2 linked regions of the Homo sapiens genome follow. The gene in region 1 interacts genetically with each later gene. Each region holds a gene or a part of one and is shown on either strand. Other genes may lie near its edges.

Region 1 (8,642 bases):
GGTTTCACCATGTTGGCCAGGCTGGTCTCAAACTCCTGACCTCAAGTGATCTGCCCACCTCGGCCTCCCAAAGTGCTGGGATTACAGGCCAGGTATTGGTATTTTTCAAAATTCCTCAAGTGATTATAATATATGACAAAGTTGGAACCTTTTTTCTAGGGACATACTTCTCAACCCTGGCTGTACATGAGAATCTCTTGAGAAGCTTTTACAAAACACAATGTCTAGGCCTAATTTCCCAACAAATCAAATACGAATCCCTAGGGATGGGATGTGGGACACCAGCACTCTTTACATATCCTAAGATGACTCTAACAAGCAGCCAGCCTAGGGACCCCTGCTCTTTTGCTCCGACCTGCTGACCTGCAGTGATTCTAAACGAAGTGACTCTCATAGGCTGTAGGGGCAAGGAGACCTTCCAGTGATCAAGATGTCAGCATCGGCTGTTTATTTCTGGTCTTGGCTGGCAGCAATGTGGCCAACTTCGGACCAGCCAGCCACAGGTCTGGGGCTCCAGGATGCAGCTGTGCTCTGGTGCACTGTGGGTCTTCACTCATACTTGCAGAAATCCTTAAGTTCTTTGGGCAGGTGGAGCCCATCAATGGCCAGCCGGTGCACCATGCTCCTTTGTATCACTAGGCGGCACAGAGTCTGCAGGGATGGCACTGTGGGAAGAAGACTGTGAAAGGCAAACTGAACTGGAGGGTGGGTCTGAGGCCAAGATCCAGAAGGTCTAGGTCATGGTCCCCACTTTGTCATTAAATGTGGGCAAGTCCTTACTGCTCTCTGGGCCCAGCCTGCTTCATGGGGCTGAGAGAAGCACCTCTTCCTGAGAGCTGCCACAAAGCTGCAGCCCTGTTTATATCATAACACTTAGCACAATCCCTTCCCCATTCACTTAGCAGCTTCTGGGGGCAGGGGTAGTGTCTGATTTGCCTGTGCAACTGAAGCCTCCAGCACAGGCCTGGCACAAAGAGGGTTCTGGTGCATTGAGTTCATGAAATGTGATGAGAGGTATAACTGCAATGCTTACCAGGGCTATAATGAATCATACTCAGCATTAAGAAGCTCTCAGTCTGGGGTTTGTTATGCCTCGAAGCCAATAGCCAATATGCCCAAGTCTATGAGCATGTTTCTTTCTTTTCTTTCTTTTTTTTTTTTTATTTAAAGAGAGAGGGTCTTGCTCTGTCACCCAGGCTGAAGTGCAGTGCTCAGTGAACTGCAGCCTTCAATTCTTGGGCTCAAGCGATCCTCCTGCCTTAGCCTCCCAAATAGCTGGGACTACAGGCATGCACCACCATGCCCAGATAATTATTTAATTTTTTGTACAGATGGGGTCTCACTTTGTTGCCCAGGCTTGAGCTAGCTAGCTTGCTTGCTTGCTTGCTTTCTCTCTCTTCCTCTCTCTCTCTCTTTCTTTTTTTTTTCAGAGTCTTGCTCTGTTGCCTAGGCTGGAGTGCACTGGTGAGATCTCGGCTCATTGCAACCTCCACCTCTCGGGTTCAAGTGACTCTCCTGCCTCAGCCTTCTGAATAGCTGGGATTATTGGCACATGCCACCACACCCAGCTACTTTTTGTATTTTTAGTAGAGACAGGCTTTCACCATGTTGGCCAGGCTGGTCTCGAACTCCTGGCCTCAAGTGATCTGCCTGCCTCCCCCTCCCAAAGTGCTGGGATTACAGGTGTGAGCCACTGTGCCCGGCCAAGCATGTTTCTAAGAAAAGGGCAAACAATTCTCAAAGAGGCCCCTAATATCTAAAATTGGTTTAGAATCCCTGCCCTAGGTGAATACAGGAAACACTATCAAAACTAAAAGGGAACTTGTAGGGCATCTTAATCAATCAACCAAGATAGGTACCAAGGCCCAAAACCATGTAGAGGCTTGTGCAAGATCACAAGCAGAGGTGCAATTTGAAGCTAGATTCTCCCACTCTTAAACTAGTGCCGGACAGACGAAGGCCTAGCACATGGGCTACGGAGCCCTAGTAGATTCCAGTCCCCACACTGAGCCAGGAGGGGTCGCTGCCCAGGGATACCTACAGCCATACTCGAGCTGGACAAGGCGCACGCTCTTTGTGGAAGCAAACACGTCCACCACCGCGTAGAGGGGCTGCGCAGCTGGCAGTCCCCGGGCGCTCGGGCCCATGTCCTCGCCGTTGATGATGATGTGCATGTCGGCCGTGCCATCGGGGCGCGGGCAAAAGAGGACACCCAGGCGGCTACGGCGCGCGGTCGGAGGCAGCACGTTCAGCTCATAGAGCTGGTCCAAGAGATGGCTGTAGAGCCCTGGCCGGCTGCGGCCCACCAGGCGGTCCCGGGGAATGCGAAACTGCTCAATGCGCAGATATGGTTCCACGAGGAGGGTTGGAGGTCGGCTGGGGGCCGCTGCCTCCGCCTCCGGGCGGCCCTCCCGGGGCACGCGGTTGTGGTGGCGCGTGATGGCGAAGACCCAGGTGTGGCCCAGGTTGACCAGATCGGGCAGAGAAAACTCGGGAACGGGGGCCAGACTGGCGGGGTCCAGCGCGGTCAGACCGAGACGCAGATGTCCGCACCAGCCCAGCTCTTTCTCCTCGATCTCGACCAGGAAGACCTGGCCCGGGGCCAGCGGCTCGCGGCTGAAGCACACGCCGTGGGCGAAGCTCTCCACGCGTGTGGCCCGCGTCCCAGAGGGGTCCACGCGGATGTTGGCACCGTGCACCCGATGGAAGCGGGTGGGAGGGGGCTCCGGGCGCTCGAGTCCCCAGAGTGCACCCGAATCCACGGGCTCGGAGGCAGCAGCCATCTCTCGGCCATAGGGCAGGCCAGCTGGCGCCGGGGGCTATTTTGGGCGGCGGGCAATGATGGTGACCGCAAGGCGACCTTGTAAGGCATTTCCCCCCTGACTCCCTTCCCCGAGCCTCTGCCCGGGGGTCCTAGCGCCGCTTTCTCAGCCATCCCGCCTACAACTTAGCCGTCCACAACAGGATCATCTGATCGCGTGCGCCCGGGCTACGATCTGCGAGGCCCGCGGACCTTGACCCGGCATTGACCGCCACCGCCCCCCAGGTCCGTAGGGACCAAAGAAGGGGCGGGAGGAAGACTGTCACGTGGCGCCGGAGTTCACGTGACTCGTACACATGACTTCCAGTCCCCGGGCGCCTCCTGGAGAGCAAGGACGCGGGGGAGCAGAGGTGAGCTGGCACCGGAGGCTGGAGGGGATCCCCGAGCCCGGGATCGGTGCGCGGCAGAGGAGGCTCGCGGGTGGGAGCTGGCGCTGGGGCCGGGGCTTCCCTCGCGGAGGCGCCGCCAGCAACTCCCCGGGGGCTGCTGCACGGAAGCGCTGAGGAGCGAGTCAACAGCCCCTCTGCTGCCTCCCGTAGATGATCCGAGCCGCGCCGCCGCCGCTGTTCCTGCTGCTGCTGCTGCTGCTGCTGCTAGTGTCCTGGGCGTCCCGAGGCGAGGCAGCCCCCGACCAGGACGAGATCCAGCGCCTCCCCGGGCTGGCCAAGCAGCCGTCTTTCCGCCAGTACTCCGGCTACCTCAAAGGCTCCGGCTCCAAGCACCTCCACTACTGGTCTGCCGCCCTGCCTTCTGGGCGGGATTGGGAGAAGAGATGACGGATGAGGGATGGGGGGTAGTTCTGCAGACCCCTGAGGATGCCTGGGAGCCGGGAGGGCTGGAAAGGGCCCCTCCAACTGCGCCAACCCTGCCCTGACCCCCCTCCCAGGTTTGTGGAGTCCCAGAAGGATCCCGAGAACAGCCCTGTGGTGCTTTGGCTCAATGGGGGTCCCGGCTGCAGCTCACTAGATGGGCTCCTCACAGAGCATGGCCCCTTCCTGGTGAGTGGACAGCAGGGGGAAAGCACAGTTCCCAAAGTAAAAGGCTGGGGAAAGCGAGAGAGGGGCTTTGTGATTTTCCAAAAAGTTTCCTTCCTTCTAAGCCTCGGGATTTTCCTCTATGCCATTGGCTTTGCTGCCTGTACCTCTCAGAGGTTTTACCCACATGTAAAGTGCCTCTCATGGTGGCCCTTTCCCTCCACCCAGCTGGCCCTTGGGACTTACTCAGCCATCTCTTTCCTCCTCAGGTCCAGCCAGATGGTGTCACCCTGGAGTACAACCCCTATTCTTGGAATCTGGTATAGCTGGAGCTGTGGGTGTGTCTGGGCACTTGGATGGGGTGGCATTTAGCTAATTTTTCCCTCCCCTCTAGATTGCCAATGTGTTATACCTGGAGTCCCCAGCTGGGGTGGGCTTCTCCTACTCCGATGACAAGTTTTATGCAACTAATGACACTGAGGTGAGTCTGGTGCCTGCCCATCTGCCCCAGGCTCCCCGGTCCTCCATCCATGGCATGATGCTGGGAGAGAGAGCATGGCCTTGGAGTCTACTTTTCGCTCTGTCATATGCTATTGTGGTATGGTGGCCAGTCACTTCCTCTTGCACAAATAGGGTGGGTTAATGTCATTATCTCTGAAGTTCTTTCCAGTTCAAATACCAAAGCTTCCTGATTCCCTCTGTCTTGCTCTGCCATCCCCAGGTCGCCCAGAGCAATTTTGAGGCCCTTCAAGATTTCTTCCGCCTCTTTCCGGAGTACAAGAACAACAAACTTTTCCTGACCGGGGAGAGCTATGCTGGCATCTACATCCCCACCCTGGCCGTGCTGGTCATGCAGGATCCCAGCATGAACCTTCAGGTGCAGGGTAGCTGCAGGAGGGAAGGGAGGTAGCTTGAGGCTGTGGCCTTACAGTTAGCAAGGTCAGACTGACTGGTCAATGTCCCCATCCAACCCAGCTTCCTGCATAACCTCCCCACCACCGGCTGCCCTAGGTCTGTCTGTGTGCCTCCCACACAGGAAACTCACCTGTCAGGCTGCCAGCTCTGTGTTTTGCATTGAGTGGCCTCTCATACCCACCGGCCTACATAAACCACCCTGGGTTTCAGCTTCCGGATTGCTGAAGGTCTGGGTGGTAGGGTGAGGGAGGCTCTTCCTTTTTGCCCTCCACATGAGCTGAGCACCCTGGGTGTTTCACAGGGGCTGGCTGTGGGCAATGGACTCTCCTCCTATGAGCAGAATGACAACTCCCTGGTCTACTTTGCCTACTACCATGGCCTTCTGGGGAACAGGTATGGGATAGGGCAGTTGGGCAATCTCTGGGGTGAGGCAGGTCACATGATCTCAGGTCTGTCCTCCAGGCACATGATATGACAGGCCCAGCCCAGGTTTATGAGCAGCAGGTGGGTTGCAGAAAGAACCTAGTGCTGAAAGGCCAAAGAATAGAGATCAGTTTTTCTTTCTTTCTTTTTTTTTTTTTTGAGACAGATTCTTACTTTGTCACCCAGGCTGGAGTGCAGTGGCACGATCTTAGCTCACTGCAACCTCCACCTCCCAGGTTCAAGCAATTCTCATGCCTCAGACTCCCAGGCAGCTGGGACTACAGGCGCGTACCACCACACCTGCCTAATTTTTTGTATTTTTAGTAGAGATGGGGTTTTGCTGTGTTGGCCAGGCTGGACTTGAACTCCTGGCCTCAAATGATCTTCCCAAAGTGCTGGGATTACAGGCATGAGCTACAGCGCCCAGCCAGAAATCAGATTTTAAAGGAACTAAGGAGGCCTGTCTGTATGACCCTGGGGCACCTCTTTGGGAGCTAGCTTAGATGACATACAGACCACACCCTGTGATATCTTTCCCAGTCTCCTAGGGTCAGGGAGGTTGGTGGGAGGTGGGGGGTATGCTCGCCTCCTCTGCCTTCCTCTTCCCACCAGCAGCTGATGCGCTTTTCACTCTCATCTCCTACAGGCTTTGGTCTTCTCTCCAGACCCACTGCTGCTCTCAAAACAAGTGTAACTTCTATGACAACAAAGACCTGGAATGCGTGACCAATGTGAGGTTCTGCCATCACTTTGCATGAGCTCTCCCATCCCTAATCCTGAGAACAGGACCACATTCCCTCCTTGGGGACTCCTTGTTCTCCGTCCCTCATTGCTTTCTTGCACCTTTAAGCAATTTAGTGTTCTCTGGGACATGTGTCTAAGTGTGTATTCCCACCACCACCTCCTATGGTGGCAAATCCCATAACCTCCGTGAGGAGAAAGGACTTCTTCACATTTATCAAACACCTGCAACGTGGCAGGCACTGTGCTGAACTGTGTCTATGTAGATTATTTAAGCTTCAAGATTCCCCCTCAAATGAGATCATACTACCCACATTTTCCAGATAAGGAAACTGAGGGCTATGAATTTTGAAATCACTGTCTGAAGTCACAGTGTTGGGAGGCAGTGATGCTAGGATTTGGACCCAGGTCTGGGAAGATTCCTGCCACTGAGCCTCAGTTTCCCTACCTGTGAAAAAAAGTGGGTGAAGAGGTGAAATCCAAGAGCAGTAAATCTTGGGACAACTTGGTGGGGTCGTGGAGAGGCTGGGGATCTGTAAAGCATGGTGGCTTGGTGTATCATTGCAGCTTCAGGAAGTGGCCCGCATCGTGGGCAACTCTGGCCTCAACATCTACAATCTCTATGCCCCGTGTGCTGGAGGGGTGCCCAGCCATTTTAGGTAGGTGCTGCTGGGTGCCCCTGGAGCCAACCCCAGCCCCATCTGGAGGCTCCACACCCATTCCCCCACCTCACATTGCAGGTATGAGAAGGACACTGTTGTGGTCCAGGATTTGGGCAACATCTTCACTCGCCTGCCACTCAAGCGGATGTGGCATCAGGTGTGCGAGGGCGTGGGCTTCCTCCTGGTGAGGTGGGGGCAGGGGGAGGGGCAGGGAAGCAGAGGCCCTGACCCACTGTCTGTGCCTTCCAGGCACTGCTGCGCTCAGGGGATAAAGTGCGCATGGACCCCCCCTGCACCAACACAACAGCTGCTTCCACCTACCTCAACAACCCGTACGTGCGGAAGGCCCTCAACATCCCGGAGCAGCTGCCACAATGGGACATGTGCAAGTGAGGTTCCGTGGCCACCTGTGACTTGGGGTGGTGGGTTGCTGGGGCTTGTGGGCATCGGCAGGTTTCTCAGGGATCTTCTGTGTAGAGTTTCTCAATGAGATGAGCTGTAGAGGATGTTTAACATCCATCCCTGACCCCTCAGTGGATTGAGAGTCAGCCAATTCATTCTTTTATCTTTTTTAAATTTAAAATTTTTTTGTTTGAGACAAGGTCTCACTCTGTCACCTAGGCTGGAGTGCAGTGGTGTGATCATAGCTCACTGCAGCCTCAAACTCATGGGCTCAAGCAATCCTCCCACCTCCCCAGTAGCTGGGACTACAGACGCACCACCACCCCCAACAAGTTTTTGTATTTTTTGTACAGATGGTGTTTTACCACATTGCTCAGGCTGGTTTTGAACTCTGGGGCTCAAGTGATCTGCCCATTTCAGCCTCCCAAAGTACTGGGATTACAGGCATGAGCCACCCCGCCCAGCCCCATTTCATTACGTAGCCACATTGGTTGTTGTTTCACAGTTCACTACAGCCTCAACCTCCTAGGCTCAAGCGATCCTCCCACCTTAGTCTACTGAGTAGCTGGGTCTACAGGCACATGCCACCATTCCTGGCTAATTTTTAAAAAATTTTTTTGTAGAGACAGGGTCTCACTATGTTGTCCAGGTTGGTCTCAAACTCTTGGTCTCAAGCAATCCTCCCTCCTTGGCCTCCCAAAGTGCTGGGATTACAGGCGAGGGTCCCCACACCCGGCCATCACATTGGTTAATAACTATTACTTCCGACTGGGCGCAGTGGTTCACGCCTGTAATCCTAGCACTTTTGGAGGCTGAGGTGGGGGAATCACCTGAGGTCAGGAGTTCGAGACCAGCCTGGCCAACATGAAGAAACCCCATCTCTACTAAAAATACAACAATTAGCCAGGTGTGCTGTTGGGCACCTGTAATCCCAGCTATTCAGGAGGCTGAGGGAGGAGAATCGCTTGAACCCAGGAGGCAGAGGTTGCAGTGAGCTGAGATCATGCTACTGCACTCCAGCCTGGGCAACAAAAGTGAAACTCCATCTCAAACAACAATAACAAACTGTTAACTTCCATGTCCAGTCTCCTGTGGCCACCCCCCCCCACAACCCCAAGTAAAAGGGTAACACTGGGCCCAGCAGGGCTGCTCAGGTCCATTTTGATTGGTCAGTGCTCACACTCTACCCTGTTGTATGTTGTGACTCCCACACCTGCTGGCCCCTAGACACTAAATGCCAGATGCATCCCAGTCCTCGTAACAACCAAAATGCGTCCCTTGTACATTTCTTTTTCTTTTTTTTTTTGAGATGGAGTCTTGCTGTCACTCAGGCTGGAGTGCAGTGCTGCGATCTTGGCTCACTGCAACCTCCGCCTCCCGGGTTCAAGTGATTCTCCTGCCTCAGCCTTCTGAGTAGCTGGGACTACAGGCACGCACCACCACGCCTGGCTAATTTTTGTATTTTTTTTTTTAGTAGAGACGGGGTTTCACCATGTTGGTCAGGCTGGTCTCGAACTCCTGACCTCGTGATCCACTCACCTCGGTCTCCCAAAGTGCTAGGATTACAGGCGTGAGCCACCACGCCCAGCATCCCTGTACCTTTCTAAATGGTGGTGAGTTGAGGCTGTCTGAATCCCAGCCCATCCAGCCCAACATCCAAGTCAGTCCTAGAGAGGTGGCCCCCCCCCAAAAAGGGGAGTGGAA
Region 2 (7,615 bases), on another chromosome or scaffold:
TGGGCGGGGGCAGGGCTGCCTGCCCCCACTCCACCCAGCTCCCGAAGGCAGGAGGCCGGGACAGGCGCGAGGCCGCCAAGAACACAGGGCGCAAGGCCCCACGGAGGTCAAAGATCCCCCTAGGGCCAGGTAGTCCCTGCTGGCAGTGTCTGTGGGAAAGGCCCTGGGCCTAGCCAGCTACACTCAGGCCTGTCAGTGGGCACTGGGGCTGCCACAAATGCCGGGGCAGCTGGACCCATCCTGTGGAGTGGAAACCCAGGCCCCTGAGCCCACTCCAGGAGGGTCCAGACCTACAGGGTTATCTGGGGGAGCCCTCCCTGAGCAGGGCGCCAGAGGGCTGGAGGAGGTGGTGGAGAGAGGGGTTCTGCAGGGCCACAAGTACCCCGACTGGTCCCATCCATGCCTTCAGCCCCTGCCAGCTGTGCCTGCCCACCTCTCCCTTCACCTGCTCCACCCACACCTTGCAGCCTCAGACCCGTCACCCAGGGCGGCCTCCAATGTTTCTAGAGGCTGCACCCTCTGCTGGCACCCCTCTCCCCAACTCCCTTCTCCTGGACACCCCAGCTGCTGCCCAGGTCTCCTCCTCCAGCCCCGACCCAGGGTGGCTTGTGTGATATCAGGGGAGGTGTGGGATCCCGGGAGCTGGAGGAATGGCCCTGGCATCACGGGGCCCCCCTGGGCTGAAGCTGGAGTGGCCTCGTCCATGCCTTGAGACTGTGAGCTTCATGGGACTGGGCCCTGCTGGGGCCACAGCGGGGGAGGGGTAGGTGACTGTGTGGATGGACAGATGGATGCGCTCGGTAAATGGTTCTGTCCATGCTCCGGCCCACGTGCTCCAGTGCCTTGGAGCCCCGCTCCACCTGCTGTTCTCTGAGCTCCCTGCCCCCGCATGCTATCCTGGGACTCCACAGCACAGACCTCTGAGCCGATGGCTGTCCTCACAGGCCCGGGGCCCCTCGGGACGGCCCTTCCGGTGACTTCCTGCCAGGGAGGCCAGGGGGAGGGGTAAACAAGGCCTCCAGATGGCTTCCTGTGGCTGGGCAGCCGTGGGAACAGCCCGGCCCAGGGAGGCTACCAAAGGAGGGGAGGGTGGGAGCAGGGGCCAGCCAGCAGCATCCGTCAGCAGAGCATCTGCTGAGATGGACCCGCTGCCCTCTCGGAGCCTCCGACATGGCCGGGGGGACGTCACACCCTGTTTACAGAGGGGGACACTGAAGCACAGGCAGGCAAGTTACCCCAGGGCCAGCCCACCAAACCCAGTGCCCTCCCCTCCACACCAGAGACTCCCGTCTCTCTGGCCTCATCTGCAAAGGAGCAGATGAGCTGGCTGGCTAGAGGTCACCTCAACGACAGGACGTGCAGATGTGCAGGTGCCAGCTTGTCTGTCTTCCATCCCAGCACTGCCACTCCCCAACTGTGCTACCTAGCAGAGTGCCAGCCTCAGACACCAGCTTCCCTCCCTGGGAAACAGGACGACCATGGCAGCTGCCACCAGGGGACCCTGAGGTTTAAGGATGTGCCCTGGGTGAGCTCCGGCTGCTGGCCCAGAAGAGGCTCGCGACGGTGCCATTAAGAGTGATGCCGTTCCGTCAGGTCCTGGGTCCCCAGGAGGAGCCTGTCCTCACCCGGCTTGCCCCTTCCTGGTGCCTCGTGCATGACTCCCTCCGTACTGTGATGCCATCTCCTCCCAAAAGCCCACCCTGACTACCTGCTTCCTGCCCCACCACGACCTCTAAGTCTTGGGGACACATGCTCCAGGGAGGGAACTGCCATCTCCTACAAGTCCTACTCACCCATGGGATTTCTCTGGGGTCAGGACCGCCCCTCTCTGCCTACTGCCATCCCCACGGGGCCAGTGTGGACCCGGGCAGCCCCCCAAGAGTTATGGGGAGGCAGGAGCTACACAGCAGCCAGGATAGGGATGAAGGGGCTGGCAGACACACAGCCGGGCACCAACAACCCTCCCATCTGACCCAGGGTTCTGCCAGCGGGCCAAGAAAGACTCACCCCGGTGCCGAGACGCACATCCTGGCTGTCCATGGCCTCACTTAGGAGAGCCCATCATGGGGGTGGGGGGATGGCTGGTTAATAAACAAGCATCTGACCAGACCCAGAGACCAGGGTCCAAGGGTGCCATCGGGAGAGGACCCCAGTCAACACCCAGGGAAATTTCAAGTGACACTGTAAAACAGCACCCGAGGCCGGCACGGTTCTTGTGAAATGAAGCAGAAGCCCAGAGCTACTGCAGCCGTGTATTTCCCAGGCTGTTTGAATTTTTATAATGAACATCACCAAATGTGTGTCTAAAACAATAACCACGTTTGCGCCTGGCACAGTGGTGGGCCGGGCACAGATGTGGGCCGGGCACAGTGGTGGGCAAGGTGCAGAGGCGGGCCAGGCGCAGAGGTGGGCCAGGCGCAGAGGCAGGCCAGGCACAGTGGTGGGCCGGGCGCAGTGGCTCACACTGTAATCCCAGCACTTTGGGAGGCTGGGGCAGGAGGATCACTTGAGTCCAGGAGAAGCAGCCCGGCTAACATGGTGAAATGCCATCTCTACAAAAAATAGCTGGGCATAGTGGCGCATGCCTGTGGTCCCAGCTACTCAGGAGGCTGAGTCAGGAGAATCGCTTGTGCCTGGGAAGCGGAGGTTTGCAGTGAGCTGAGATCGTGCCACTGTATTCCAGCCTGGACAACAGGGTGAGACTCCGTCTCAAAAAAGAGAAAACAATAACTACATGTTTGAAGCGTTGTTCAAATGTCGCCTCTCCCCCATGTGAGCTCCTTGTGGGTCCCGCAGTGCTGCCATTGCACGTCCCCAGCCTGCCCCAAGAACACAACCTGGCAGGTAGGGAAACTGAGGCACCCATGGACAGCCCTCCCCCAGGTCACAGGCCTGGAAGAGAGTAAAGGGCATGCCACCAGGACCCCGTCCATCCATTGCAGTCACCGACTCAGAAGCAAGCAGCCTGGCTCAGGTGGCTGGAGCTCAGCTGCCAGGCCTTTGTCCTGATCCCACCCATCTGCTGTGGGGGCCGGGGTCTCCCCCAGGCTCCCCATTCTCCAGACACAAAAACGGAGGCCCAGAAAGGGCAGGAGCAGGGAGAGTCGGCAGAGCCAGGGCCAGGCCTTGTAGCTCCCCAGGGCCATGCGGAGGGGACAGGGAGGCCACCGAGGGGAGGGGCAGCCGGGAGCCCCGGGCACCCCCAGGGACCCCCTGAGCTCCACACGGCAATTCCCAGCAGATGGGCCTCTGGGCAGCTGGCCAGAGGGAAGCAAAGCCCGGGAGGAAGGGCCTCTGCGGCTGACCCAGGACGGGGAGATTAAAGGAGAAGATGTTTGCCTTGGCAGGGGCCCCAGGACCAGGCGAGCCAGAGGAGGGGGCCAGCGTTCCAGGCATCAGTAGAAGATGCCAGAGTGGGGGTGCCAGGAGTAAGAGGCACCGGCTCTAGGGGCAAGGGCGGAGTGGATGAGCAGGTAAAGCACACCGTGTGCCACAGGAGGGGTGGTGACAGGGACCTGAGGCAGGCGGGCAGAAACCCTGGGTGGGGTGGCGGGGAATCCTCCGAGCCCTCCCGAGCCTCTTCCAGGAAGCCTGAGTCACAGGAGGGACCCAGGGCCAGGAGAGCAGCCGGGAGCACCGGTCCCGTGGGAAGGGGACTGAGATGGGGACAGGGACAGGGCAGGGCCACCCGTCACCTCCTCTAGCTGGGCCAGGCCTGGCTTCGAGGTCTCCGTGGCGGGTGAGGACGAGGCCGTGGGAACAGGCTCCTGCAGCTCCCCAGAGGGACTAGGGGGTGGTAGAGCTAGACAGAGTGGGTCCAGCCCATCCTGCAGAAGGGGAAACTGAGGTCCAAGAGAAAAGCCTCCTGGACAATGACGTCATCAACTGAAGTGTCCCCTGGGCAGCCCAGGCCTGGACACTGGGGAGAACAAGGCAAGAGTCTCCCCAGCCAGGCCCTGAGCACCCTCATCCGGGGGTCTTCAGGTTCCAGAGTCCAGTTCTAGCACATCCACCCTCAGCCATGGACCCGAGACCCTCCAACTCCCAGGGTTAGAGACTTCCTCTTGATGCCCTATTTCCAGGACCCCACCCCAGGGAAATCTGATCCCCGCAGGCCCTGCTCCACCTCACCACCTCACTCTAGAACATTCCCTGGTTCCTGCCACTCCATGCCCCAGGATGGGAGTCAGGGACTTGAACCCTAGTATGCTGAGTCTGGGGTGTTCCCAGACGCCCGTCTGCCCACATCAGCAACGCTGGCTCCTGCAGGGGTGCTGGAATCTCTGGGAGTTGGAGGCTGTGCCTCAAGCAGAACCAAGCAATCAGGGAGTGCTTCCCAACTTATAACCACTCAAATGGTCCAGCCTCTTATTGGCAAGTGCAGAGCAGAGACTCCAAGGGATGTTATGCCCACCTCTGAGGGTCACCTAGCAGGAGACCTGGGCCCCACTGGCCCACTCCACCCCTCATCCAGCAAATAAACCCTGAGCACTGGCTAGGCCAAGCCCTGGGCAGAAGGCACAGGGGCCCTCTTCTTGGCCATCCCAACACCACTGGGCCCTGACCACATCTTCCAGGGCCAAGGGCTCCAGCCTGGGCACCTCCAAGCAGGCCTCAGGCAGACGCCTCCCTCCCTGCTCCGCCTGCGCTGACTGTCCAGGGTCCTGCATCCAGGTCTCGGCCCGTCCAGGACTGAGCCACACACAGCGAGGCTCACACATGATAAAGGCAGGAGCCGGGCCGACCCTGGACAGAGAGCGGGCTAGTGGTGCCAAGCCCTCAGAACCAGGGGCAGCAGGAGGAGCAATGCCCAACTCAGGTCCAATTTCTGCAAAACATTTTGTTCAACTCCCTTCCAGCTCTGATGGGCAAAGATAACAGAATCTCTCTGAACTATCCAGAAAGATCACTGCCTTTTATGGACAAGAACACTGGTCCCAAAGAGGTCGAAACCAGGCTCCACAGCCACCGAGGCACTCAGGCCCCAAGGCAGGGTTCTCATGACCAATACCCGCCCCGCCACCTGCCTTGTGAGGGTCTGCAGGGGACGTGCACCCCACCTTCACCTCCTGACTCACTGGACTCCCAACTGAGGCCAGCGGGGAGCATGTGCCCAGCGTGGGGCAGCCAGGTGGCGGAGTTGTCATTGTTCTGTACTTGTGGTAGGAGCTGGGCATGGCAGAGGCCCTTCCCAGCAGGACTCCTGCCCTCTCCCACCCAACCCCAACCCAGGACAGGCCTTACAGGCAGAAGTTTCAGCCCACCCGGGGGCTCCATTCAGGTCACTGGGACCTCCTTCAGAGAGCCCCCCACTGCCTGGAGCCTGTGTGACCTCATGAAGTGACAGAGCATCAGCCTCTCATTGTACAATGGGCAGGCAGCCTGTCCTGTTGTCACAGGGACCCACCAGGATGAGGTTGGCACAGCCCTGCACACCCTGGCAGCCACCTTCCCCGAGCCCCGGCTTCCCTGCGTGTAACACAGCTCTCACTCCGGCTCCAGGAGCCGCTCTGGCCCTGAGGAGGTGGCTAGAGCCAAATTCAACACAGATCAACCTGTGTTCATCCCCCTAGCCCTCTGGGGTCTTCCAGCCTGGCTTCCTCCCTGGCCGGGAAAACAGCAAGGGAGGAGAGGCTGTGGGCTCCAGGCCCCCAGCCAGCCCGGCTACCCTCCCACAGGAGTACCTGGCTCAAGGGCAGGTCCCAGAGAGCACAGCCCAGGCTGTTTCCTTCCCTGGATCGTTCATCCACTGTGTCTGGAACCCCAGCGGGCTCAGTGCACTCAGGACCCGCACGTCAGCTTGTCGGCTCCACACATGCAGCCCCTCGGGTTATGCGTGGTCTTGTCCCACGTGAGAAGGGAACACTGAGACTCAGAAGGTGACATGACCAAGCTGGCGTGGCCAAGCTAGCCCTTCCCGAGGCCACCGTCTCCCCACCCTGTAGCCCCCATCCCCACCTCATCTCTTCCTGGCCAAATCATCAGCGGTGCCCTTTGTCCCCCGTGTGCCTGTGGTGCAGCTGCTCCACTTGGCGCCAGCTCCTCGGGGCAGGGCTCGGGACTGTCCTGTTCCCAGTGGGCCAGAGCAGGCACACAGTAGGTGCTCCAGGGCTGTGGGCTCGGTGAGAGAGGAATGCTGGACGGGCTGCCCGGGGCCAGATTCCATACCACCTGATGACCTGGAGCTGCTCACCCCACTGGCACCATCACCCAAATGACCAGCACCCTCCCCTGCCCATTTACTGACCTTTCCCCAAAAAGGAGGCATGGCCAGCGTTCAAATTCCTGCTCTCCTCCCAGCAGTGACCCTGGCACGTCACTTCTCCCCTAGGGTCCTTCCCTGGCTCTAGGGCAGGACGGTAATATGAACACTTACCCGCCAGAGGTCTCAATCCTCTAGGATGAAGGGAGTTAAAATGCATCAAGTTTTACGTATGAGTCCATCACGGTCCTGACCAATGGCACCCACAGCCCAGATAATGGGGCCGGTTCTGGCTGTACCGCAATCACCAGGCACTGCCAAGGAGCCCCACCTTCACATGGCACGGGGTTACAGTCACGGCAGGGGTGGGGGTTACACATCAGGTTAGGCCTGCTTCCTCTGAGCCAGTGGCAGGGTTGGCGGGGGCAGGTGGCCAGGACAGGGTGGGAGAGGGGAGGCAGCCCCATCTGTCCCCAGCCAGGGTGGCCCTTGGCAGGCAACAGCAATGACTGTGCTGCATTTCCACTCCTTCTAGAAGCATAAGCCCTGACATGAGGGCACCCCTACATCTGGGGAAGACACCAGGAGAGGAGCCGGGGGGCATGGGAGCACCCCTACATCCCGGGAAGATGCCAGGAGAGGAGCCAGGGGACATCCCCACTGGGTAGATGAACGGGGGCTGCAGGAGGGAGGGGTGGCCCACGCACCTACCCCGGGTAGATGAACGGGGGCTGCAGGAGGGAGGGGTGGCCCACGCACCTTCCCCAGGTAGATGAACGGGGGCTGCAGGAGGGAGGGGTGGCCCATGCACCTATCCTGGGTAGATGAACGGGGGCTGCAGGAGGGAGGGGTGGCCCACGCACCTAAGGGGAAGTGGGGGTGCACTGGGCAATGGCCCCCAGTTCCCCTCCAGGAGGAAGGTAAACCTGAGGGCCCACTCTCAGGACCCCAGCTGAGCCCTGAGCCATGTGGTCATCCCTGACCCTCAGTTCCGCTTCCAAACCAGGAGGCTGCCACTAAAGCAGCCCAAGACTGAGTGGCACGTGCCTGGCGGGAAGCGATGCCCCACCTAGGGGTCCTTAGGGCCACACCCTTGGCTGGGAGGAACAGCCTGTCCTTATTTTCTGAACTGTCTTTTGTACAACAGCCTTGGCGCAGCTCAAAGGATAAGTGAGGTTCTCAGGGTCCTGACCTGAGGCGCCCCAAGGAGGGGAGACACGCGCACACTCTCTGCCAGGTGAACGCCTACTGGGCCATCGGAACCCACAGCTCGTGCCCCACCCACACTGGCACGGGCTGTGTCCACGTAGCCCTGATCCCGCTCGGCTAAAGAGCGCAGCTCTCAGCTGCCGTAGGTAGCTGCCAGGACCCTCCACCCTCTGCTCAGGCTCCTGGGTGGAAGGAAGCACCCGT

Evidence for each region. A genetic interaction does not mean that the proteins touch.
Region 2: changes in NEURL2 (region 1) and PTP4A3 together harm fitness less than expected from each alone (positive genetic interaction), as found in Homo sapiens cells (one study listed by BioGRID).

The regions. Positions count from the first base shown.
Region 1 is NC_000020.11:45,888,209-45,896,850, forward strand, and holds NEURL2 (neuralized-like protein 2), read right to left. Parts: upstream 3,001-8,642; 5' UTR 2,784-3,000; coding exon 2,042-2,783; exon of another isoform or gene 680-2,041; coding exon of another isoform or gene 666-679; coding exon 550-665; 3' UTR 426-549; downstream 1-425. Other genes in the region: CTSA (lysosomal protective protein isoform b preproprotein), read left to right, coding at 3,361-3,554, 3,708-3,819, 4,065-4,115, 4,190-4,276, 4,517-4,672, 5,012-5,103, 5,780-5,864, 6,442-6,533 and 2 more. UniProt on the Homo sapiens protein: Plays an important role in the process of myofiber differentiation and maturation.
Region 2 is NC_000008.11:141,395,021-141,402,635, reverse strand, and holds part of PTP4A3 (protein tyrosine phosphatase type IVA 3), read right to left. Parts: intron 2,066-7,615; exon of another isoform or gene 1-2,065. UniProt on the Homo sapiens protein: Protein tyrosine phosphatase which stimulates progression from G1 into S phase during mitosis. Enhances cell proliferation, cell motility and invasive activity, and promotes cancer metastasis.